Homo sapiens: one gene and its partners. The protein of the gene in region 1 interacts with the protein of each later gene in a biochemical or structural test. Each region holds a gene or a part of one and is shown in the gene's direction. Other genes may lie near its edges.

Region 1 (3,500 bases):
GTTGCTAATATATTAGTTGATAAGATTTTTTCCCCCTTAATCTGGAACCCAAGGGAGTCTACTCTATTAAAGAAGAAAGAAGGGGAAAGAATAACCTGAAGAATTTTTAGTAAAGAAGCCTTTTAAGTTGAGCATTTGGAAATATATTTGAAGCATAAATCTAAGGCTTAAATTCTTTAGGGATCCTTCCTGGCAAGACTAGGTAATCAGATAATTACTCTGCTTAGTCTATAGCTATGCCAAGAAAACTTTTTTTTTTTTTTTTTTTTGAGACGGAGTCTCGCCCTGTCGCCCAGGCTGGAGTGCAGTGGCCAGTGGCGTGGTCTCGTACGCCAAGAAAACTTTAAGCTGCCTTCCTTTGTGTGACTTTCATTATTGTGACCACAAAGAATGCCTATTATCATCATCCAGCCTCATGAATACATTGAAGCCCTAGTATTGCTATGTGGTTGATGAAGTGCTTAATATTTTTTAAAAATATGGTTATAAGATTATAAATATATATAGGTGTGACTATTACCATCCCTAGTAGCCTCCTCCTCTTGGAAATCTACCAAGACCATATGTGCCGAGGATATGTTTATTAACCTAGTTCCAAGCAGTTTGGTTGTGTTTTTGTGTTTGGTTTTTTTTTTTTTTTTTTTTTTTGAGACAGAGTCTTGCTCTGTCGCCCAGGCTGGAGTGCAGTGGCATGATCTCGGCTTACTGCAACCTCTGCTTCCTGGGTTCAAGCAATTCTTCTGTCTCAGCCTCCTGAATAGCTGGGATTACAGGCACGTATCACCACACCTGGCTAATTGTTGTATTTTTAGTAGAGATGGGTTTTCACCATGTTGGCCAGGCTGGCCTCCAAGTCTTGACCTCCTTGGCCAAGTGATCTGCCCTCCTCGGCCTCCCAAAGTGTTGGGATTACAGGCGTGAGCCACTGCACCCGGCCAGCAGTTTGGTTTTTAACATCTTTATTTTGTGGAAAAAGTGGATACATCAGAGGAGACAGTAATTTTTATATAGGCAAAGGGGCTTTGGTTTGTAGCAGTTTGATTGATGATGTTGGGGGAAGTACTTTGTATTACTCCAGAGTAGTTCTTGATTGTCATTAGAGTATCAGGCTACTGAGTAAGACATGGAAGAAAAGTCTTAATAGGACCATCACAAAGTCTGTCACTTGTTTATGAAGTGATTTAGCATGAGGTAATAGAACAATGGATTGGGAAGAATTTCTAGGTTATAATTTCGGTGTAGTTGCTAACATTATGACTTTATGCAAACCACTCAGTCTCTTAAGGGTTGGCGCTCCCAATTTGCTTCTTGCTTTAATATTCTGTGATTCTGTGCGTAGTCTGTAATTGCTGTTTAATGTAGTACAGGTTGCAGAAATGTTTGGAAGTACCTCAAGCTAGTTTTAGTTTTTACTCTTTTCCCATCAAGTCAACTCTTTACCACCTTAGATTTTTCTCCACTAAGAACACAAACAAATGTCACTTCTAGTGGCTGCACCTTCTAAAATTAAGTGAAGTAGGTGTTTCAGTATGTAATTTTTCTGTTTTGTGTCTTCTTTTATAGGACTTTGTATCTTTGCTAAAGTCAGTGATGTGAAAAGACTTGAAATGGGTAAGACTAACTAGCTGTTGAATCCTTTTAGCTACTTTCATTGGTTAAGCTGTAGTGAAAGAATGGGTTTTCCTAACATTTTCAGTATTTGTATCTTTGTGCTTAATAATAATTTTAAGAGAAATTTTAATCCTAATTATGTAATACTATATACCAAACAAAATTATTATTATTGCTATTTTTGAAACGTAGTCTTGCTCTGTCACCCAGGCTGGAGTGCAGTAGCACAATCTCAGCTCACTGCAACCTCTGTCTCCTGGGTTCAAGCAATTCTCCTGCCTCAGCCTCCCAAGTAGCTGGGATTACAGGCATGTGCCACCACGTCCGGCTGATTTTCGTATTTTTAGTAGAGACGGGGTTTCGCCATGTTGGCCAGGCTGGTCTCAAACCCCTGACCTCAGGTGATCGGCCCACCTCAGCCTCTCAAAGTGCTGGGATTACAGGCATGAGCCACCGCACCCAGCCCACATAATTATCTTTTGGTTAGAACATTGTTTATATGCTCATTTAGGAGTATTATCTCATTGATTGTATTGAAAAAGTTAAGTATACCCTAGCAAACATTTACTGTGTACTAGACCCTGTTCTAAGTATTTAAAATATATTGGTTCATTTAATCCTTATAACCATCTTACAAGGGTACCTAATAGTACCTACCAAGTAGGTTACTGTTGTTATCCCTATTATATCACAAGGAAACTGAGACACAGAAGTTAAGAAGCTCGCCTAGAGTCATGTACTATAACTGGCTGAGCCAGGATTTAAACCTAGGCACTCTGGTTCTAGAGTTTTCTAGAGTTCTCGTTCTTTTTTTTTTTTTCTCTTTTTTCTTTTGAGACGGAGTCTCGCTCTGTCACCCAGGCTGGAGTGTAGTGGTATGATCTCAGCTCACTGCAACCTCTGCCTCCTGGGTTCAAGCAATCCCCCTGTCTCAGCCTCCCAGGTAGCTGGGATTACAAACATGCGTGCGCCGCCAAGTCCGGCTAATTTTTGTATTTTCGGTAGAGATGGGGTTTCGCCATGTTGGCCAGGCTGGTCTTGAACTCCTGACCTCACGTGATCCGCCTGCCTTGGCCTCCCACAGTGCTGAGATTACAGGGGTGAGCCACTGCGCCCAGCCAAGAGTTCTTGTTCCTTAGTACTATGTTATACTACTTCTAAATGATAAATAATTTGATTAATGTAAATATTCTATTTCATTTAGCTAGTGTTACTGAGAATTGTGGTTAGGACATTTTTCACTATTTCATTTGTAGTACTTTATGTCTGTTAAGGGGATCAATATAAGGTCAGGACTAGTAGCTAATTTAGGAATAAGTTGAAAAATCTATACACTTAGGTCTTATAACATCCCATATGTTCCTTTTACATTCACATTAGCTTTCTCTCTATTCTGTGTTTTCCTTTTCCTTAGTCTGCCTTCTCCTTCCCTGTTCATTTGTTTCCATTTTCTCTCATTGCTGATAGCAGTGTAAGTCGTTGAATTCTGTTACGTTTATTGCTTCTATTCTAGCTCTTCTATAGTAACAAAGGTATCAAAAATGGTTCTGAAGTAAAATTCTGCCATAATATTATAGTTATTGAGCTGATACCTGTTAAGAGCAATATGAATAAAATTATGCTTTTAAAAAAATGTTCAGGCAGATTATTATTATTATTAGAGACAGGGTCTCACTCTCTTGCCTAGGCTGGAGTGCAGTGGTGTTATCTTGGCTCACTCCATCCTCTGCCTTGGGTTCAAGCGATTCTCATGCTTCAGCCTCCAAGTAGCTAGGATTACAGGCATGTGCCACTATGCCTGGTGTATTTTTAGTAGAGATGGGGTTTTGCCATGTTAGCCAGGCTGGTCTCAAACTCCTGGCCTCAAGTAAGTGATCCGCCCACCTCAG
Region 2 (2,691 bases), on another chromosome or scaffold:
GGAAACAGAGGCAGCCTTTGCTTTTTTCAAGTGTTTCGTGGTTGTGGTCAAGCCGCTGCATGTGTTTGTGCGTCAAGTATTAATGTGTAAGGAATGAGGAAAATCTGATGGAGCTCTTATTTGTACAGAGTAACTCATGGGTGCCTATGGCAGTGGTTTTGATTTGCTTAACTTATTAACACGAGCATTTCACTTTCCTTTCCAGTCTCTTCCAGGTGAAACACAAAGTCAGGGGAGTTTACCTTTAACTTGGTCTTTCCAGGAAGGCGTCCAATTGCCTGGTAGTTACAGTGGACATTTAATAGCTAACACTCCTCAGCAGAACTCACTAAATGATTGCTTTTCCTTCTCCAAGAGTTATGGTCTGGGAGGAATCACAGATCTGACTGACCAGACTTCCACTGTGGACCCCATGAAGCTCTATGAAAAGCGCAAATTGTCCAGTAGCAGAACCTACAGTAGTGGAGACCTGCTTCCTCCTTCTGCCTCCGGAGTCTACTCTGATCATGGCGATCTACAAGCGTGGAGTAAAAATGCTGCTTTGGGGAGAAATCATCTTGCTGACAACTGTTATTCCAATTATCCTTTTCCTCTGACCAGCTGGCCTTGCAGCTTCTCTCCTTCCCAAAACTCTTCAGAACCCTTTTACCAGCAGCTTCCATTGGAGCCACCTGCAGCCAAAACTGGCTGTCCCCCATTATGGCCAAATCCAGCGGGTAATCTTTATGAAGAGAAAGTACATGTGGATTTTAACAGCTACGTCCAGTCTCCTGCATACCATTCACCTCAAGAAGACCCCTTTCTCTTCACCTACGCCTCTCATCCTCATCAGCAATATTCACTGCCAAGCAAGAGCAGCAAATGGGATTTTGAGGAAGAAATGACATACTTGGGTTTGGATCACTGCAACAATGATATGCTTCTGAACCTGTGTCCTTTGAGATGACCCAAATCTTTCACTATGTGCACCCCAGCCCCTCAAAAATGGGGAAGGGCTGAAAGAATTTCCTTAGGAAATAATTTTTAAAACATAACCACAGATAAATGAGAATCATGATAAGCAGTAGACAAGGCTTTTTTCTTTTTCTTTTTTCCTTCTTTTTTTTTTTTTTTTTTTTTTTTTGAGACAGAGTCTTGCTCTTTTGCCCAGGCAGGAATGCAGTGGCGCCATCTCGGCTCACTGCAACCTCTGCCTCCCGGGTTTGAGTGATTCTCCTGCGTCAGCCTCCCGAGTAGCTGGGATTACAGGCACCTGCCACTGCGCCTGGCTAATTTTTCTATTTTTAGTAGAGACAGGGTTTTGCCATGTTGGTCAGGCTGCTCTCAAACTCCTGATCTCAAGTGATCTGCCCACCTCACCATCCCAAAGTGCTGGGATTACAGGCGTGAGCCATTGTGCCCGGCTGACAAGGCTTTTTTCTTCACATGAGTAATTTTTTTGGCTTCTTCTCCTCCACTCTAGTATTTCCACCCTCAGTAAGGAATGGAAACCTGTCCCGTCTGGGGTGTGAAGTGCCCTCTGCTTTTTCCCCCACATTGTTTGGGGTTCCCAGCACCTCAGCCACATTGCATGCTGGGTTTTCATTGTCATTGTTGCAAATGAAATGGAGTAGACATGTGAAATGCTAACCTATCTAGGACCTGATCTATGCCTTCTTGGGAACTGAGAATGAAGAAACAGAAATAGATGGTGGAAGAACTGCCTAAGGTGTGAAAAGCTGAAGATTCTACCACTGAAGTACTGAATATGTTGTCTAGTTGTGAGACTAGTGTGTAAAATATATGTTTTCTAGATGATTTCTGAGACTTGTGATGACAAGGAACCTGACCTAACCCCATTTTTCATAAAGACAAAGAACAGCAATGTTAAATTGCCATATGAAGAGAAACACTAGTGATGTGCGTGGTCTCCTTGCCTCTTGTTTCCTTCCCTCTTCCTCACTGACTTCCCCTTGCACAGGGGCTTCTGTTTTATCCCATTTATTATTTGTGGCACCTATATCAATGTGGGGTTTGTAATAGGTGAGAAATATTTGCTTGGAGAAGCTCTTGTGCAATTAGCCTGGCAATGATTGGCCGGCCATGTTTGAATGCCAGTTTCTCTTCTTTGCTGAAGTACTTTATGATAAAAGTAAGCCTAGACATAAAATCTGGAGAGAACCATGCAATAAACAAGTATTTTTGAAATAAATTATTCCTTCTCCTTTATTAGAATAGTAACAGATGCACATGATACAAAATTCAAAAGTGAAAAAAAAGAAGTCTCCTAGTTCTAGTCTCCCCTCTGCAACACTGACTAGTTTCTTGTCTATTATTCCAGATATTAGAAATGTTCTCTGCATATATATAATTATATGTAATGTGTATGAAATACATTACATAAAATACACACATATCTTTTATATATAAAATATATTTATATATATATATAAGAGAGAGATGACATAAGTGGTATCATATCAGATTCATTTCTAACATAGTTTTTGTCGTTTTAGGAGCCAATTTGAGCATTAAGTTCTTATAAGCATATAGGATCACAGCTGCTTCATTTTTAATGATGCATTATGCATTACATGACTATTATAATTAAATAGTCCCTATTGATAAACATTTAGATTTGTTCAAATCTTCTAAATTCATTTGTCTAAGTGACAAGACTATATATAAAACTTATATATTGGCCAGGCATGG
Region 3 (3,500 bases), on another chromosome or scaffold:
GCCTTGTCTCTTGAATTTTTTCAGAACACTAAGATACAACCTTAGGCTATTGAAGCCAGCAAATGTCCCAAGGGTAGCTCTAACTTCAGAGCATGTTCACCTCTCCAGTTTCTGGCTCTCAGCTCTCACTTCATTGCTTGACTTCTTTATTTTCTTTTACTCTTGTCTTTTTTTTTTTTTTTTTTTTTTTGAGCGGAGTCTCGCTCTGTCACCCAGGCTGGAGTGCAGTGGTGCAATCTTGGCTCACTGCAACCTCCACCTCCTGGTTCAAGTGATTCTCCTGCCTCAGCCTCCCGAGTAGCTGGGACTACAGGCGTGTGCCACCATGCCCAGCTAATTTGTGTGTGTGTATTTTTAGTAGAGAGGGGGTTTCACGAGTGTTAGCCAAGATGGTCTCAATCTCCTGACCTCGTAATCCGCCCGCCTCAGCCTCCCAAAGTGCTGGTATTACAGGCATGAGCCACTGCGCCCAGCCTTAATCTTGTCTATATTTTTAAAAGGATGTTTGTCATATTTTACCCACCATTTATTGGTGTTTGTTAAGAAATCTGATATACCATTCAGATACCAACTGTATCCACCTACTGTCACAGTCATAATATACAACAGTTCTATTAACCATCCCTAAATTCCCTCATGCTTTCTTCTTTCATTGTCAACCTCTCCCCTTTAACCATTCCCAGCCTATGAAAAACTACTCACCAAATTCCATCCATATAGTTTTGCTTTGTCAAGAATGTCATATAAATAGAATCAAAATATGGCTTTTCTCACTTAGCAAAATATATTTAAGATTTATCCATATTGTTGCATGGATCAATTTGTTTCTGTTATTGTTGAGTAATGTTGCATGAATCAATACTTTGTTTCTGTTATTGCTGAGTAATGTTCCAGTACCTGGAATGGCCAAAGTTTGCTGATTCATTCGCCTTTTGAGGGACATCTGGTAGTTCCAGTTTGGAGCACTTCTGAATAAAGCTGTTATAATCTTTGACATATAGATGTTTGTGTGAGCATAAGTGTAAATACTAATGTGACTGCTGTATCATATGCTAAATGTATGTTTAACATTATAAGAAACTACCACACTCTTTTTTACCATAGTTACAGTGTTTTGCACTCTCAGCAACAGTATTTGAGAATTTTTGTGTTCTGTTTCTTGATCTGTATTTCTAACTGAAATATTCTTTATCACTATAGACTCCTTCCCTTATATTGGATAATTGTTTTTTTTTTCTTTTTCTTTTTTTATGAGCCAGAGTCTCGCTCTGTTGCCCAGGCTGGCTTGCTAGTGGTGAGATCTTGGCTCACTGTAACCTCTGCCTCCCTGGTTCAAGTGATTCTCCTGCCTCAGCCTCCCAAGTAATTGGGATTACAGGCACCTGCCACCACACCCAGCTGATTTTGTATTTTGTTTTTTTTGAGATGAAGTCTTGCACTGTCACCCAGGCTGGTGTGCAGTGGCATGATCTCGGCTCACTGCAACCTCCGCCTCCCAGGTTCAAGCGATTCTCCTGCCTTAGCCTCCCGAGTAGCTGGGATTACAGGCACCCGCCACCATGCCTGGCTAATTTTTTGTATTTTTAGTAGAGACGGGTTTTCACCATGTTGGCCAGGTTGGTCTCGAACTCCTGACCTCAAATGATCCACCTGCCTTGGCCTCCCAAAGTGCTGGGATTACAGGCATGAGCCACTGCGCCTGGCATGAATAATTGCCTTTTTTCTCTCCAACATTCCATGAGATTATAGAACCCTTTCATTACGTTATAGACCTGTAGTAGTGCCTGGGAACTCTAGGATGTGTTCTTCCCAGAACACACAGAATTGTCCTTGAATAGACAAGTAAATAAGAGAAGACATGAGGCAAGGCATGAAGAAACAAAGGAAACTGTGAAGTAAGGATAAGTAAAAGCAACTTAGTATCCTATTTGAAAGGGATAGAGAGAGCTAAAGAGCAATTGGAGAGGCATATAGGATCATAGATTTAGTATGGAGGTGCTTTTGTTTCTATGTGTAAGGAAGTTATAGGGAAACCACAGATCACTGGTTTCTAGGCATGTACCACTAGGGTGGTATGAAGGGTTGATTACAGAGAAACAGGACAAGGGTATTTAGGAGTGACAGAAGTATGACGGTGGGTGGATACATGATTTGTGTCCTTATAAGTCAAAGTTTCTTTTGTTTTTTCTCCTGTTTTTCATTCACCTGGTTTTTATTGAGTGCTTTCATTACCTAGTTTTTATTGAGTGCTAGACATCACAAAGAAAAGTTATAAGGTTTCAGTCCTTGGATAACATTATACAAAATCCAATAAAGATTTAAGTTTGCTATGGCAAGCAGTCTTGAATCACCATAATCCAAATTTTTGAAATTTGAGCTGATTCAAAGATGATTCAGACTTCAGACTCTGTCCAGATTGGTCTACTGTTTCTCCTTTATTCCTCAGTATAGCTCTCAGGGTTCCCAACCCAAAGTATAAAGAATTCATGGCAGGCCCTATCCTCCAGTTATTGTTGCCCAGCCCTGTGACACAGTCCAAAACACTGTTTAGTTTCTCCCCCTCTTAGCTTTTTCTAGAATCATAAGACTTCTCTAAGTGGAAATGTGGACCCAGATGTTGGGCTTATCTCTTTGATTTTCATATTTTTCAATTTTTAGCCACCCACTCTTTATTATGTAAACGCTCCAGTGGCTTCACTCAGGTGCCTTTTATAATTTGCTTAATTTGTATAATTGCTATCATCTAGAAGGTTGGTCTAAATTACCTAAATTACCAGAAATTAATGTTTAAGATTTAGGGGCTGATAATTAAATTAAGACCTGAAGAATGAGGAAGAGTGTTTGTATAGTCTCATCCAGAGCAGTCCAAAGAAATGGAATAGGCTCTGGCTAGCTTTTAATTGAAAAAGGTCTGTGACTTTTTCAGAGTTGAAAGGAAGCTAGTTTTTCTGGCAAATAAGGAGCGAAGCTGAGAAGGCTCAACAGATACATAAGCAAGGAGAAGACCATGGAAGGGGAAATAAGTCAAAGTCATTGAAGAGTTTGGATTTTATATTAATATGGAAGCTACTAAAAAGTATTAAGCAGATAAAGAAAATCATTATCTGAATCTGAATCAGTTGATAGGAAGGATTAAAATTACAGATCTCCAGGATCTTTTTCTGATTCACTAGCAGTTAGTCTGGTGTAATGTTGGACAGCTATAATTTTAACATGCTCCCCAGGTGATTTTGATCCCCACCAAGGCTTGAGAACTACTCACTTTAAAATTGTTCTTAATCTCTTCCCTTATCTTCTCAAGTGAGTTTTCATTATTCTCTAATCTCTCAGATGCCCCTTTCATATATTAATATATGAGATCCTTCTTAGCTAATTTTTTTTAAAATTCTAGATAGGAACATTACTGTACCATGAAATCAGTGTAGTGGGGTTTGTCTGCATGTGTATGAGACAGAGAAATTGAAAAAAGTAGAAATATTGCAGAATAGAATAGAAAGCAG
Region 4 (3,500 bases), on another chromosome or scaffold:
GTGTTTGATTCCTGAGCATCCAGTCAGAAGGAGAAAGAAAGTGTGAAGGAGGCACACACATGTCTTAACCTCTTTAGGCTGGAAATAAGTGGAAATAGTGAATGCTTCTCACATGGCCCCACCTAGATGCAAGTGAGCCCAGGCAATGTAGTCTTGTTAAGGCAGCTGCTTTTCAGTGACAACTTCATACCAAGGAAGGGGTTGGTGAAGTTTAGGTGTCAACATAAACCTGGGCCATACTTGTATAAATTATGTTTTATTATGTATTATCTTACTGCCATAGACATAAACAGGGTTGTAATTTGAGGGTATTGTGTTATGCCTCTGTGTGATTCTTTTCAGAAGTAGACAGTTGTCCCATTGCAGACAAGAGAGAGAGCTTCCTGATGCCAGGCTACTGAATAGAATTATTAGTACCTCCGTGTGCTCTTGGGTCCAGAGAATATAGGCTATCACATGAGACACTGAATAAATGCTCTGGTTTTCCTAATGGGAACACAGAAGCAAGCAAAATTTCACATTCAGCTGTCCTGTAATTTCTAAGAATTTGAAGACAGTAAGTGTCCAACAAGATAGAATTTTGCCTTCTTTTAAACCCTCTTGCCACTTTAATATCCTAAGAATTACCAATAGCTTTCTCAGCTTCACATTATCATTTCTGTGCTTGTTTAATCCCTTCCTACATAAAACTATAAACTCTTGGAGAGAGGGATGGTGTCTTAGCATATTTGTATTTCCAGTCGTTCCTTGTATATAACAAGAGATTATAGTTAAAATATTTATAATATTTATTTAAGTGAACATTTTGAGGATCCTATGTGGAGATTTGTGCCAAGACAGAAAAGAAATGGGTGATAACAGGTTATTTTCTTCTGATGTAAATAGAATTGAGACCTTAATGCTTGCAAACTACATACAGATGTGGACTAATTAATATGATGCCATCTGAGGTTAGCTCAGTGATGTCTACTCATAACTATTAAGCCTGGTGCTTTTTTAGGTCTCCTGAGCAATAAGACTAAGCCAGTCGCTTCAGTGAGTGGGCAGTCATCTGGATGCTGTATCACCCCCACAGGGTATCGAGCTCAACGCGGGGGGACCAGTGCAGCACAACCACTCAATCTTAGCCAGGTAAGTGCTATGGGCTACTGCCTTCTGTTTGGGCCCTGCACTGTTGTTACTTTCTGGAGAACCCTGCTTCTGGCTGGATGCTGAATAAAGCCAAATGAAGCCCCTTTTGTGTCAAACAATTTTGTGTTCTATGGCTTACGTCGTACCGCATATGCTGTGTCTCTTCATTCACTCTGTAAGTGTGTTCAGGATGTACATTCTAGGTTTTCCATCAGACCTCCCTAAGTCTACCCTGGAAGGTTAGAGAAACGTCTGGGATTTAGAAAGAGCCTGGGGTGCTTTAACCATGTCTGTGATAGGCATATGCTTTGAGACCAGATTCTCTTTATCCCCCAGGCCATAAGTAAGCTGATCCTTACATTGTTTACTTGAGTCAAGAGATTGTGAAAAGCTCATTGGCCACCAAATTCAACTGGTTCTAGGTCCTACTTGTTGCTGGAGTCTGCGATTTGGGACTTCCCCACTCTCCGAACACCCCCAGCCCCAACCTACCCTTCTGCTTCTCTCATTACTTTATTCTATTTGTGTTCACTCTTAGAAGCTAAAATTCGAGTGCTTGTATGATGTCCACCAGTAGTGAGAAAGTGTCAGTATGAGGGTATGTGAGAGAGAGCACATGCAAGTGAAAATGTAAGTTTGAGTTAGTGCATGTATTTTAGTTTCCACATTTCAAGAGGGGTATGAAGAACTTAGAGGACGAAAACAAAAGAAAGCAATGGTAAGAAATAAAGGCTAGGAAAAATTCAAATTTACTGACGCCAGAATAGGGTGAGTTGAGTCACCAGTTATTAACTTGCAGGAGTGGGGAACCCTATGATCTCTTGATTCTCCCTCTTCCTGTCATACTTACAAGCAAAATGCTGTTACCTGAGCCAGATTAGGATCTATCTTGCTAAGAGGCAGAAGGAGGGGTGGCTGATTTCTGACAGCATTCAATGCCAGTGTGGGAGATTATGTGCTATACCCATTCGAAAACAGTACAAGTCAGAACCTGAGCTCTTAACTTGGCCTTTGGTGCCCTGAGCTGGAGTGACCTCAGGATTCCTCACTTCTTCCTTCTTTCTTCCAGAACCAGCAGTCATCGGCGGCTCCAACCTCACAGGAGAGAAGCAGCAACCCAGCCCCCCGCAGGCAGCAGGCGTTTGTGGCCCCTCTCTCCCAAGCCCCCTACACCTTCCAGCATGGCAGCCCGCTACACTCGACAGGGCACCCACACCTTGCCCCGGCCCCTGCTCACCTGCCAAGCCAGGCTCATCTGTATACGTATGCTGCCCCGACTTCTGCTGCTGCACTGGGCTCAACCAGCTCCATTGCTCATCTTTTCTCCCCACAGGGTTCCTCAAGGCATGCTGCAGCCTATACCACTCACCCTAGCACTTTGGTGCACCAGGTCCCTGTCAGTGTTGGGCCCAGCCTCCTCACTTCTGCCAGCGTGGCCCCTGCTCAGTACCAACACCAGTTTGCCACCCAATCCTACATTGGGTCTTCCCGAGGCTCAACAATTTACACTGGATACCCGCTGAGTCCTACCAAGATCAGCCAGTATTCCTACTTATAGTTGGTGAGCATGAGGGAGGAGGAATCATGGCTACCTTCTCCTGGCCCTGCGTTCTTAATATTGGGCTATGGAGAGATCCTCCTTTACCCTCTTGAAATTTCTTAGCCAGCAACTTGTTCTGCAGGGGCCCACTGAAGCAGAAGGTTTTTCTCTGGGGGAACCTGTCTCAGTGTTGACTGCATTGTTGTAGTCTTCCCAAAGTTTGCCCTATTTTTAAATTCATTATTTTTGTGACAGTAATTTTGGTACTTGGAAGAGTTCAGATGCCCATCTTCTGCAGTTACCAAGGAAGAGAGATTGTTCTGAAGTTACCCTCTGAAAAATATTTTGTCTCTCTGACTTGATTTCTATAAATGCTTTTAAAAACAAGTGAAGCCCCTCTTTATTTCATTTTGTGTTATTGTGATTGCTGGTCAGGAAAAATGCTGATAGAAGGAGTTGAAATCTGATGACAAAAAAAGAAAAATTACTTTTTGTTTGTTTATAAACTCAGACTTGCCTATTTTATTTTAAAAGCGGCTTACACAATCTCCCTTTTGTTTATTGGACATTTAAACTTACAGAGTTTCAGTTTTGTTTTAATGTCATATTATACTTAATGGGCAATTGTTATTTTTGCAAAACTGGTTACGTATTACTCTGTGTTACTATTGAGATTCTCTCAATTGCTCCTGTGTTTGTTATAAAGTAGTGTTTAAAAGGCAGCTCACCATTTGCTGGTAACTTAATGTGAGAGAATCCATATCTGCGTGAAAACACCAAGTATTCTTTTTAAATGAAGCACCATGAATTCTTTTTTAAATTATTTTTT
Region 5 (3,500 bases), on another chromosome or scaffold:
TTTAAAATAATATTTTTTATTTCAGTTATACAAATACTTGGCTAGATATAGTTTTTATTTTGACATGTTAGAAGGATAGTTTTGAGGTAAAAGTAATTCTTTATTAAATATTTTTTTCTTCCATTTTTGTTTTGTTTTGTATTTTTGAGTTGGGGTCTTGCTCTGTTGCGCAGGCTGGAATGCAGTGGTATGATCATGGCTCACTACAACCTCTTACCTTCTCAGCTCAAGAAGTCCTTCCTCCTCAGCCTCCTGAGTAGCTGGTACTACAGGCATGTACCACGATGCCCAGCTAATTTTTTTTTTTTTAATGTTTTTGTAGAGATGGGGGTGTCAACTATGTTGGCCAGGCAGGTCTTGAACTTCTGGCCTCAGCTGATCCTGTCACCACCACCTCCCAAAGTATTGGGATTACAGGCATGAGCGACTGTGCCTGGCCCCTTTTCTTCCCTTTTTAAAACCTAATTTGAATTTCATAATATCTAGACTTACATTAATATAACACATATGCCTAATTCTATCACTTCTTTTTTTTTTGAGACGGAGTTTTGCTCTTGTTGCCCAGGCTGGAGTGCAGTGGCGTGATCTCAGCTCACCTCACCCTCCACCTCCCGGGATTCTGCTACCTCAGCCTGCCGAGTAGCTGGGACTACAGGCATGTGTCACCATGCCCGGCTAATCTTGTATTTTTAGTAGAGGCGGGGTTTCTCCATGTTGGTCAGGCTGGTCTCGAACTCCCTACGTCAGGTGGTCCGTCTGCCTCAGCCTCCCAAAGTGCTGGGATTACAGGTGTGAGCCGCCGCACCCGGCCTCTATCAGCTTTTTTATGTTTGCAGGCTTTTTGTTTTTGCTTTATTCCACTAGGTTTCCCAGATTTAGAAGAAATCTTTCATTGTCCACTTCCTCTATTTCCTTTAGATATTCTTATTTCTATTTTTTTTTTACATTTTTCTCAGTAACTAAAACTGTCTGCACATAGAAAAGAACCTGTCTAAGTTGTCATTGAACAAACCAAATGATGTTTGTGATCATTTACTTCATATAAATGTGACATTGCGTTAAACAATTAGATTGTTGGCTTTCACATTAGCTCCAATTTTGAGTTTAAATGGAAGACATCAGGAAAATAAATACCAAGGAAAACAGAACTATCTGACTTTATCAGTTATTGCCTCTTTTCCCAGATTTTTTCTTAATTTATAGCTCTTCTTTTTTTACTTTTAAGATAACTATCTCTGGGTTTCAGATGTTGCTGTTGCTAAAAAGGCGCTCTCAAGCATACACTGCGTCAGATGATATTTTTTATTATAATGTAGATTATCAAAACTTAAGCATATACTTAAAATGTTTCATAATTATAGCTGACTTTGTTTCTACAAAGGTGAAATACTAATGTTATATGTTTCTTTTTAATTTTCAAGTTATATAGATTCCTTGCTGTTCCTCATCTGTGCTTATCAGAATAACAAAGAACTCTTGTCTAAAGGCTTATACAGAGGACATGATGAAGAATTGATATCACATTATAGAAGAGAATGTTTGCTAGTAAGTTGAATGCATATAGTATGATCTTATCATTTTGTCTGACATTGGGCAAGTTTTCCAGACTCATATATAAGTGATTGACTCCATAAACTCTGAGGGGATAAGAACATGATGATGTCTATAAACTGGTTCTAGTCCCTTCAGATGGAAAAGTACACTCAGTACTTTATTCTTTTCTCTTTATGAATCCCAAGTACTATAGGTGATAAATGAGAAATGTTCTTAAAATAGCATCAGTTTGTTTACATTTCTGTATTTAGATTTCGTCATCACACTACCACTCCTTTTTTTGGTGGGAGAGGAAGGGATGCATAGATAAGCCTTAAAAAATGTTTTATGTAAGTCTATAAGAATATGCAGGCTGGCGCAGCAGCTCATGCCTGTAATCCTAGCACTTTGGAAGGCTGAGGCTGGTGGATCACAAAGTCAGGAGATCGAGACCATCCTGGCCAACGTGGTGAAACCCCATCTCGACTAAAATACACAAACACAAAAATTAGCTGGATATGGTGGTGTGCGCCTGTAGTCTCAACTACTCAGGAGGCTGAGGCAGGGGAATCGCATGAACCTGGGAAGTGGAGGTTGCCTTGAGCCAAGATCGCGCCACTGCATTCCATCCTGGCAACCAGGTGACAGAGCAAGACTCTGTCTCAAAAAAACAAGAATATACATAGAATGTATTAGAGTAATTTGTTTAACTTAAAAAATTGAATTTTCAGGTACAAGAATAGTATAGCTGACTTTAAACATACATAGAACCAAAACCTGATGGTTCCTCTGAAACCTTCAAAAAATGGTATAATGTTTCTCATCATTTTTTGTAGTAACCCAGCCACATTTGGTTATTTGTTTTACATAGGAATTGAAATGAAACCTCGTCAAGATTACTTTAGTGTTCCTTTCAGATTTTTTCACGTTGTATATTTACAAAGTGTCAGGTTCTGAGGGATACAAACATGAGTAAGATGTACTTCCTGTCCTCAGAAAACTCAGTCTGGTAGGAGACATAATTGTTTGTTCTGGAATAAGTGCCATTATGAGAAATATGCACAATGATATGCCTGAAATATTTGGGAAGAACCTTAAGAGACAAGGTAAACCTCGTCTGGATCTTGATGGATAAATAGAAGTTTTATTCATGATAGAGAAGGGAGAATATTCCAGTACACAACAGAAAATCAAGATAAATTCACTGTGGCTATCCAGGTTATGAGGAAGTGGGGTAAGGTGGAAGTGATGAAGCTGACAATACTTGTCGATGTCAGATGATGAAGAAACTTAGATGACATTCAAATGAGTTTGCACCAGTGTAAGTTTGATTAGGTTTGGCATAATGAGGTTTGTTTTCAGAAAATAATTCTGGTAATAATAATAGCATTCTAGAGGATGAACAGGAAAGAAGTAGATTGAAGTCAAGAACCTTAGAGGGGAAAGTCAAGGGACGGAGAGTGAGGACCTCAACTCATGTAGTACGGTAGGTATGATGGTGAAGGAAATGAAATCGGCATGTCATAGCTGTTGGGTGAGTGGGAAGAAGGAAATGGAAGAGTCAAAGCTGCCAAACTTACTAGTTTTTCGTTTAATATTAGGGAGTCTAATAGGAGGAACAAGGTTGGCTTTGAACATGTTTTATTTAAGAGATTTCCAGGACATTCTTTGATTCAGTGAACTTAACATTAAACTTGTCATTAAATTTTATATATCATTTAATGCATACTTCCAAAAATTGTAGTAAATACTTGAAGATTTATCTCATTTTATTCTCTTAACCCCTATGGTTGGAAGATAAAATACCCTATTATTAATATAAAGAAAGTGAAGCTAACAGATTTAGCTAATCTGTTCACGATTGGTGTATTAGTCCGTTCTCACACTGCTATAAAGATACTACACAAGACTGGGTAATTTATAAAGGAAAGAGGTTTAACTGACTCACAGTTCCACATGGTTGGGGA
Region 6 (3,500 bases), on another chromosome or scaffold:
AAAATATAAATCACAGAAATATAGCTGTCCGGCACGGTGGCTCACGCCTATAATCCCAGCACTTTGGGAGGCCAAGGGTGGGGCAGATCACCTGAGATCAGGAGTTCGAGACCAGCCTGGCCAACATGGCAAAACCCCATCTCTACTAAAAAATACAAAAAATAGCCAGGTTTGGTGGCACACACCTGTAATCCCAGCTACTCGGAAGGCTGAGGCTGGAGGATCACTTGAACCTGGGAGGCAGAGGTTGCAGTGAGTCGAGATTGCACCACTGCACTCCAACCTGAGCGACAGAGCAAGACTCCACCTCAAAATAAAAAAAGGAATTTAGCTGTCCTCCATAGAAAGTCAAGGTGATAAAAATATTTCAAGCACATTCCAGAAACTTAATGAAGAAAAATAACTGAGTACAAGATACAACACATGAAGTGCTCAAATCAACAAAGGATGGCGGAAAGGAGGTTACTCATTACCTTTCTCTCTTAAAATGCGCTCCCTTTTTCCTGGGCAAAGTCTTCCTCAGTCTGGTTCTTAGACTAAGAATCAGTACCATGGCTGGGCACAGTGGCTCACGCCTGTAATCCCAACACTTTGGGAGGCTGAGGCAGGCAAATCACTTGAGGTCAGGAGTTCACGACCAGCCTGGCTAACATGGTCAAACTCTGTCTCTACCAAAAATACAAAAATTAGCAGCTGGGCGCGGTGGCTCATGCCTATAATCCCAGCAGTTTGGGAGGCCAAGGCAGGTGGATCACAAGGTCAGGAATTCGAGACCAGCCTGGCCAATATGGTGAAACCCCGTCTCTACTAAAAATACAAAAATTAGCTGGGTGTGGCAGTGGGCGCCTGTAGTCCCAGCTACTCGGGAGGCTGAGGCAGGAGAATCACTTGAACCCGGGAGGCGGAGGCTGCAGTGAGCTGAGATCACGCCACCGTACTCCAGCCTGGGCGACAGAGCGAGACTCTGTCTCAAAAAAAAAATTAGCTGGGCGTGGTGGTGCATGCCTGTAATCCCAGCTACTTGGGAGGTTGAGGCACGAGAATCACTTAAACCTGGGAGGCAGAGGTTGCAGTGAGCCAAGATCACACCACTGCGCTCCAGCCTGGGAGACAGAGCAAGACTCCATCTCAAAAAAAAAAATCAGTATTGTTTCTGTGCACATCTCACCCCAGCAGGACTGGTTGCCCAAGGAGGCAGGACAGCCCCCAGCCCCAGCGCCAGGCTCTTGTTCATTCCCTGGTCTGCCCTGCCCTTCTTGGTGGGGGACCATCTGCCTGTCTTTCCACCTGGAAGATGTTTTCTTCTCCATTAACTCTACTGTTCTTTAGCGTTTAAGGAACAGAAGCAATGCTTGTTGTAACTATGGTTTCTAACTATACAACACAAACCACACAGTCTTCAGGCTGCTTTGTCGTAGCCTTCACTTACTAAACCCCTCTTTTTCTGCTTCCGTTGTCATTGAAGTTAGAGAAAGGTATCTGGAATTTTCTGCCTCCCACACTTTCCTAGGCCATTATGCAGTTTGCTCCTAAAGAAGCCCAGTGTTGGCCCAGCGCGGTGGCTCACGCCTGTAATCCCAGCACTTTGGGAGGCCAAGGGCAGGTGGATCACCTGAGGTCAGGAGTTTGAGACCAGCCTGGCCAACATGGTGAAACCCTGTCTCTACTAAAAATACAAAAAAGTTAGCCAGGCGTGGTGCCGGGTGCCTGTAATCCCAGCTACTTGGGAGGCTGAGGCAGGAGAATCACTTGAACCTGAGAGGCAGAGGTTGCAGTGAGCCGAGATCGCACCATTGCACTCCAGCCTGGGCAACAAGAGTGAAACTCCATCTCAAAAAAAAAAAAAAAAAAAAAAAAAGGAAGCCCAGTATCTTCTCACTAGTCTGGGTCTGTTTGTTGCTTTTGCCATTACAAAAGTGCTTGCATTTAATGAATGGCTATGACTGGTGCATCTGGGTGCATTTGATTGGAAATTTCATTTAGGTGTGTATTAATACTGCACTGTGTGTTAGGCAGCCCTCTCCTGGAGGAGAGCTGAGGCACAGGGACATGGGGGGCTAGTAAAGCATCTCTTCTGCTTTTATCAAGGGGTGATGGTCCTGTCTGCAGAACTCCCCAAGCTGGGGTGGGGAGATGGCCCCCACTCGGCAGCAGAGCTCCCGCCCTCTGGGGCTCTTGCCCCTGCTGGGCTGGACACTCATGCCCTGTCCTGCCCTGTCCTGTTCCATCAGCCTTCTTGGACTTGGGCTGTCCCTGACTGTCAGCGTCTTCATCTGGTTTATCCTCTGGCCTCGCCACCTCATCTGCGTGATCTGTGATGCCTCCTCCTTATTCACGCTCTCAGCCTTCTCCCTGCCACCCCCGTCCCTGGTGGTACACAGTCACCGTCCTTAGCACAGGGCAGGAGCTCAGAAAATACTTGGATGAGTTAAAACCACTGGGCTCTGAAGAGGCTCCTGGCTCCCCTGGCTCTCTGGCTGGGTAACATGGAAGCCATCCAGCTCAGGGTTTAACCCACCTCTCTCAGAGCCCCTGGCTACTCAGAGCGTGGTCCCCCAAGCAGCAGCACTGGCACCCCCTGGGAGCTTGTCAGAAATGCAGGTGCTCGGGCCCCCCAGAGCTGCTGGCCAGAGTCTGCACTGAACAAGATGCAGGAATTACATTTGAGAACTGTTGATGGAGCCACCTGCTGACCATGAGGTCACCTCTGGAGGGTTGCAGTGTTTTTTCCACTCTTCAGCCCCCTTGGCAATAACATGGAGGCAGTTTTGTGCTTGGCCATGTTTGGCTCACAGGGCCATTCCCCGGATGATTTAGTCTCATCCTGCCTAGAGGCAGGTAACTGGACCAGGTGACTCTGAGGGTTATTTTAGCTTCTAGTAGTTTATTAGGTCCCACCACAGACACTGTCTCCTCTGATACTCATAGTCACCCATGGTGGGGACCAAGCAGGGATCCTGTCTTAGTCTATTTTGTGTTGCTGTAACAGAGTACCTGAGACTGGGTAATTTATAATCAATAGAAGTTTATTTGGCTCACGATTCTGAAGACTGGAAGTCCAAGAACAGGATGCCAGCATCTGGCAAGGACCTTTGTGCTGCATCTTCCTAGCACAGGAGGCAGAAGGACAAAAGAGCATGAGGGTGAGGGGGCCAGACTTGTTTTCATCAAAAAAGCCAATCTCTCAATAGCTAACCCACTCCCGAGATAATATTAATGCACTGATGAACTCATACACTCATGAGGGCTCTGCCCTCAGGACCTAACATCCCTTACTGGCCCCACCCTAAACACTTGCACTGGGGACTAAGTTTCTAACACAAGAACTTTGGGGAACACATTCAAATTATAGCAGATCTCTCCTACCCATTTTCCAGATGCTGAAAGTAACACCTCCCAGAGGAACGGCACTGGGCCTGGCCTTAGGCCACCAGCCCACCTTGCCTCTCCTGATTCTTTTCCGCTTTCCCTTGCTTCATTCCCTCATGCAGCCCCGACCA
Region 7 (3,457 bases), on another chromosome or scaffold:
GAAAATATTGTACTGGAAAGAAATGCACCAAAACAATCATATCTTTAGTAATAGAGAAGTACAAACCCAAGACTCTTTTCTTTTTTCTATTCTGTTAATTCTCTGTGATATGGCCATTTTTTTTATAATGAAAGTAATTTTAATATTGGTGATGCAATAGAGGAGAGGATCCCCTCCCCATAACCAAGGCGGGAAAGGGACTAACTAACCAGGAAGATTGAAGTTGGAGCCTCAGCCCTGCAGGCCACCACACAGGCCCCTCCTGTTGATCTGATTAGTCTGTACCTGCATCCACCCCCTTTTAATTTGAATGGCCCAGGAGCACTGCTAGAAAGAAAACATCTCAGAACAGTTTCAGGCATTAGCAAACAGCTCTGCAACCTCCCACTTGGCGGGCTGTACTGGTAACAACCATGGGGAGACCAGTCATGAAGCAGCTAATTTGGTTCACTGCTGTTTAATTGACCAGTGGAATTTTTTTTTTTTTTTTTTTTTGAGATGGAGTCTCGCTCTGTCACCCAGGCTGGAGTGCAGTGGCACAATCTCGGCTCACTGCAAGCCCCGCCTCCCGGGTTTATGCCGTTCTCCTTCCTCAGCCTCCCAAGTAGCTGGGACTACAGACACCCGCTGCCATACCCGGCTAATTTTTTTTTTTTTTTTTTTTTTTTGTATTTTTAGTAGAGACAGGGTTTCACTGTGGACCAGTGGATTTTACAGCCTCCCATCCTTTCATCCTCATGATACCACTGGAAGACGTTCATTGACTCCATCTTACAGACAAGACAGCTGAGGCTTAGTGATGCTAAGTGACATCACCCATGTGTAGGCAGCTAGGAAGGTGCTTCATGCATAGCAGGGCTCGAGAGAGCTTAGGTAAGCGATGTGAGGAACCTCTGCCTGTTCACCATCCAATCCACAGGTGCTCAGTAAATTGCTGTAGGATGCATACGACCGTCCAACACCCTTCAGATCATAAAACAATAGAATTTGAGAGCTGCGACTATAGCACTGCCACTAAGTCACTGTTGGCTTTAAGCAAGTCGCTCACCTTGAGGGGGTTGAACGAGCGTGTTGTGTTGGTCAGCGGTGCCTAGGAACAGCAGCAGCTTGGGCTCAACAGGGAGCTTGTTAGAAATACAGAGCCTTAGGCCCCACTCCAGACTTGGGGAGTCGGAATCCCTGGGGCGATGATATGGTCTGGATCTGTGTCCCCTCTAAACCTCATGGTGAAACATAATCTCCAATATTGGAGGTGGGGCCGGGTGGGAGGTGATCGGATCACAGAGGCAGATCCCTCGTGGCTTAGTGCTGTCCTCACAATAGTGGGAGAGTTCTCATAAGATCTGGTTGTTGTAAAGTGTGGCACTCCACCCCCTGCCCAGCTCTCTCTCTTGCTCCCACTCTCACCAGGGGAGACGCCTGCTCTCCCTTCTCTAGCCATGGTTGAAAGCTCCCTGCGGCCTCACCTGAAGCCAAGCAGATGCCAGCACCATGATTCCTGCACAGATCACAGACCCATGGGCCAATTAAACCTCCTTTCTTTATCAATTACCCAGCCTCAGGTATGTCTTTAAAGCAATGCAAGAATAGCCTAATACAGGTAGGGTCCAGCCACCAAGGTTAACCTGACCTCTAGGGGATTCTGACACATGCACGCACACACCCAAAAGCTTGAGAAGCGGGTGGCTTCTGTGAGTTGAGGCTTCCCCTTGCCACCCCTGCAGGTGGATTTTGAAGACGTGATCGCAGAGCCTGTGGGCACCTACAGCTTTGACGGCGTGTGGAAGGTGAGCTACACCACCTTCACTGTCTCCAAGTACTGGTGCTACCGTCTGTTGTCCACGCTGCTGGGCGTCCCACTGGCCCTGCTCTGGGGCTTCCTGTTCGCCTGCATCTCCTTCTGCCACATCTGGGCGGTGGTGCCATGCATTAAGAGCTACCTGATCGAGATCCAGTGCATCAGCCACATCTACTCACTCTGCATCCGCACCTTCTGCAACCCACTCTTCGCGGCCCTGGGCCAGGTCTGCAGCAGCATCAAGGTGGTGCTGCGGAAGGAGGTCTAAAGCCAGGTGGGGCAACAGCGGTGGCAGGGCAGGGGGTGGTGGGCCAGACTGGTCCCCGGGGGACTTCTTCACAGGGGCTGCTGGCGAGCTCTTTCTCTTTAGGGACTGCTCCATACCCCATGATGGAGCACACGGTGTAGGGAAGCCAGAAAGAAAAGACGGCCCAGCCACAGAAGCACAATGGCCCTTCGCTCTCCCCCAGCCCCACCATGATGCCCCCATGCCTGGGCGTGGGGGAAGATCATTTGCCAAGAGGCAGCTACTGCAAGTCTTTGCGTTCACTTGTACTGTAACAACATAAACCAGCACGCGGTTCCCACCCGGGGCCAACCTCTCCACGCGCACTCAGGAAAGTGACCAGTGACCACTGGCGTTAGGAAGGTGGCTCCAGTAAAGGGTTTTGGCTGCATTTGGGGAATGCTGCATTTTGTTCGTGCCTGTAAGATTGGTTTGTGTCCTGACCAGCTCCAAAAATATACTTCACTGCCCTGAAAAACAGACACAGGGAGAGTTGGTTGTCTCTTCACTTGGCCAAATGTAAGTGAAGAACAGAGTCTTTTTCTTCTTCGGATTCTATTGTTTGCTGGAACCGTACACGTTCCTTGGAAGATCATGTTTAAGTGACTCCTGTTGCCTGAGCACAAAAATGGGCACCAATGGAGGAAAATGACCCTTGGGCTGGCAGGGGCAGTGACCCTTCCAGGGTACCACTGAGGGAAGGGCCTGGGTTCAAGCCTCCCGGAACCTCCCCTTTGGCTAACCGAGCCCCTGAAATGCCCAGTACTGCCATTTGACATGAGGGTACCTTCGCCCTCAGGAGATGTGACGAAGGAACAAGGTCTAATTTGTGCGTGTGTGGACTCACTATGGAAATAAAATGCAGTAGAAAGAGCATGTATCACTTCCTCCCTCCTCACACTCTCTCTCTCTCTCACACACACACACACACACAGTGCCCTTATCTTCTTTAGGGCTGTCTTTTCCGAGTGTGCTATCCAGAACTTAGCCATTAAAAAAGAAAGGATGGGGATGGGTGTTAGCATCTGTGGTCCGGTTCTTTCAGAAATGCTGTATATTTCTCTCAGAGATTTTCAATAGACTTTGGCACATTAAAGGCTCTGACATGTCCTGCAGTAGATAAACCTGTTTAAACCAGTATCCCCCCAATCCTATCTGACCTTTTTTTTTTCTTTTTTTCTTTTCATGCAACGCCCATTTAAGTCTCATATAATTAAAGTTCCACAGCACTTGTCAGGTTTTCGGAGACATTATTCATGCCTGGCCACGAGCCCAGTGGTCTTGGGAGGCAGTGTGGTGAAGTGGACCACACACAGCTTGGGAACTAGGACGCAGGCAGCCTTGGTTCTAGTCCTGCTTCCGCTCCTAGTTGC

Evidence for each region.
Region 2: the proteins of SENP1 (region 1) and GCM1 form a complex in vitro, tested with the Homo sapiens proteins (one study listed by BioGRID).
Region 3: the proteins of SENP1 (region 1) and ZNF420 form a complex in vitro, tested with the Homo sapiens proteins (one study listed by BioGRID).
Region 4: of the proteins of SENP1 (region 1) and HIPK1, one has a biochemical effect on the other in vitro, tested with the Homo sapiens proteins (one study listed by BioGRID).
Region 5: of the proteins of SENP1 (region 1) and USP25, one has a biochemical effect on the other in vitro, tested with the Homo sapiens proteins (one study listed by BioGRID).
Region 6: of the proteins of SENP1 (region 1) and HIPK2, one has a biochemical effect on the other in vitro, tested with the Homo sapiens proteins (one study listed by BioGRID).
Region 7: of the proteins of SENP1 (region 1) and CAV3, one has a biochemical effect on the other in vitro, tested with the Homo sapiens proteins (one study listed by BioGRID).

What each region holds. Positions count from the first base shown.
Region 1 is NC_000012.12:48,099,580-48,103,079, reverse strand, and holds part of SENP1 (sentrin-specific protease 1), read left to right. Parts: intron 1-1,563; coding exon of another isoform or gene 1,564-1,607; coding exon 1,608-1,611; intron 1,612-3,500. UniProt on the Homo sapiens protein: Protease that catalyzes two essential functions in the SUMO pathway.
Region 2 is NC_000006.12:53,126,461-53,129,151, reverse strand, and holds the end of GCM1 (chorion-specific transcription factor GCMa), read left to right. Parts: intron 1-205; coding exon 206-946; 3' UTR 947-2,191; downstream 2,192-2,691. UniProt on the Homo sapiens protein: Transcription factor involved in the control of expression of placental growth factor (PGF) and other placenta-specific genes. Binds to the trophoblast-specific element 2 (TSE2) of the aromatase gene enhancer. Binds to the SYDE1 promoter.
Region 3 is NC_000019.10:37,123,433-37,126,932, forward strand, and holds part of ZNF420 (zinc finger protein 420), read left to right. Parts: intron 1-3,500. UniProt on the Homo sapiens protein: May be involved in transcriptional regulation.
Region 4 is NC_000001.11:113,970,824-113,974,323, forward strand, and holds part of HIPK1 (homeodomain-interacting protein kinase 1), read left to right. Parts: intron 1-1,000; coding exon 1,001-1,131; coding exon of another isoform or gene 1,132-1,215; exon of another isoform or gene 1,216-1,235; intron 1,236-2,200; coding exon 2,201-2,689; 3' UTR 2,690-3,500.
Region 5 is NC_000021.9:15,872,982-15,876,481, forward strand, and holds part of USP25 (ubiquitin carboxyl-terminal hydrolase 25), read left to right. Parts: intron 1-1,421; coding exon 1,422-1,545; intron 1,546-3,500. UniProt on the Homo sapiens protein: Deubiquitinating enzyme that hydrolyzes ubiquitin moieties conjugated to substrates and thus, functions in various biological processes including inflammation and immune response.
Region 6 is NC_000007.14:139,575,499-139,578,998, reverse strand, and holds part of HIPK2 (homeodomain-interacting protein kinase 2), read left to right. Parts: intron 1-3,500.
Region 7 is NC_000003.12:8,743,802-8,747,258, forward strand, and holds the end of CAV3 (caveolin-3), read left to right. Parts: intron 1-1,724; coding exon 1,725-2,066; 3' UTR 2,067-2,957; downstream 2,958-3,457. UniProt on the Homo sapiens protein: May act as a scaffolding protein within caveolar membranes. Interacts directly with G-protein alpha subunits and can functionally regulate their activity. May also regulate voltage-gated potassium channels.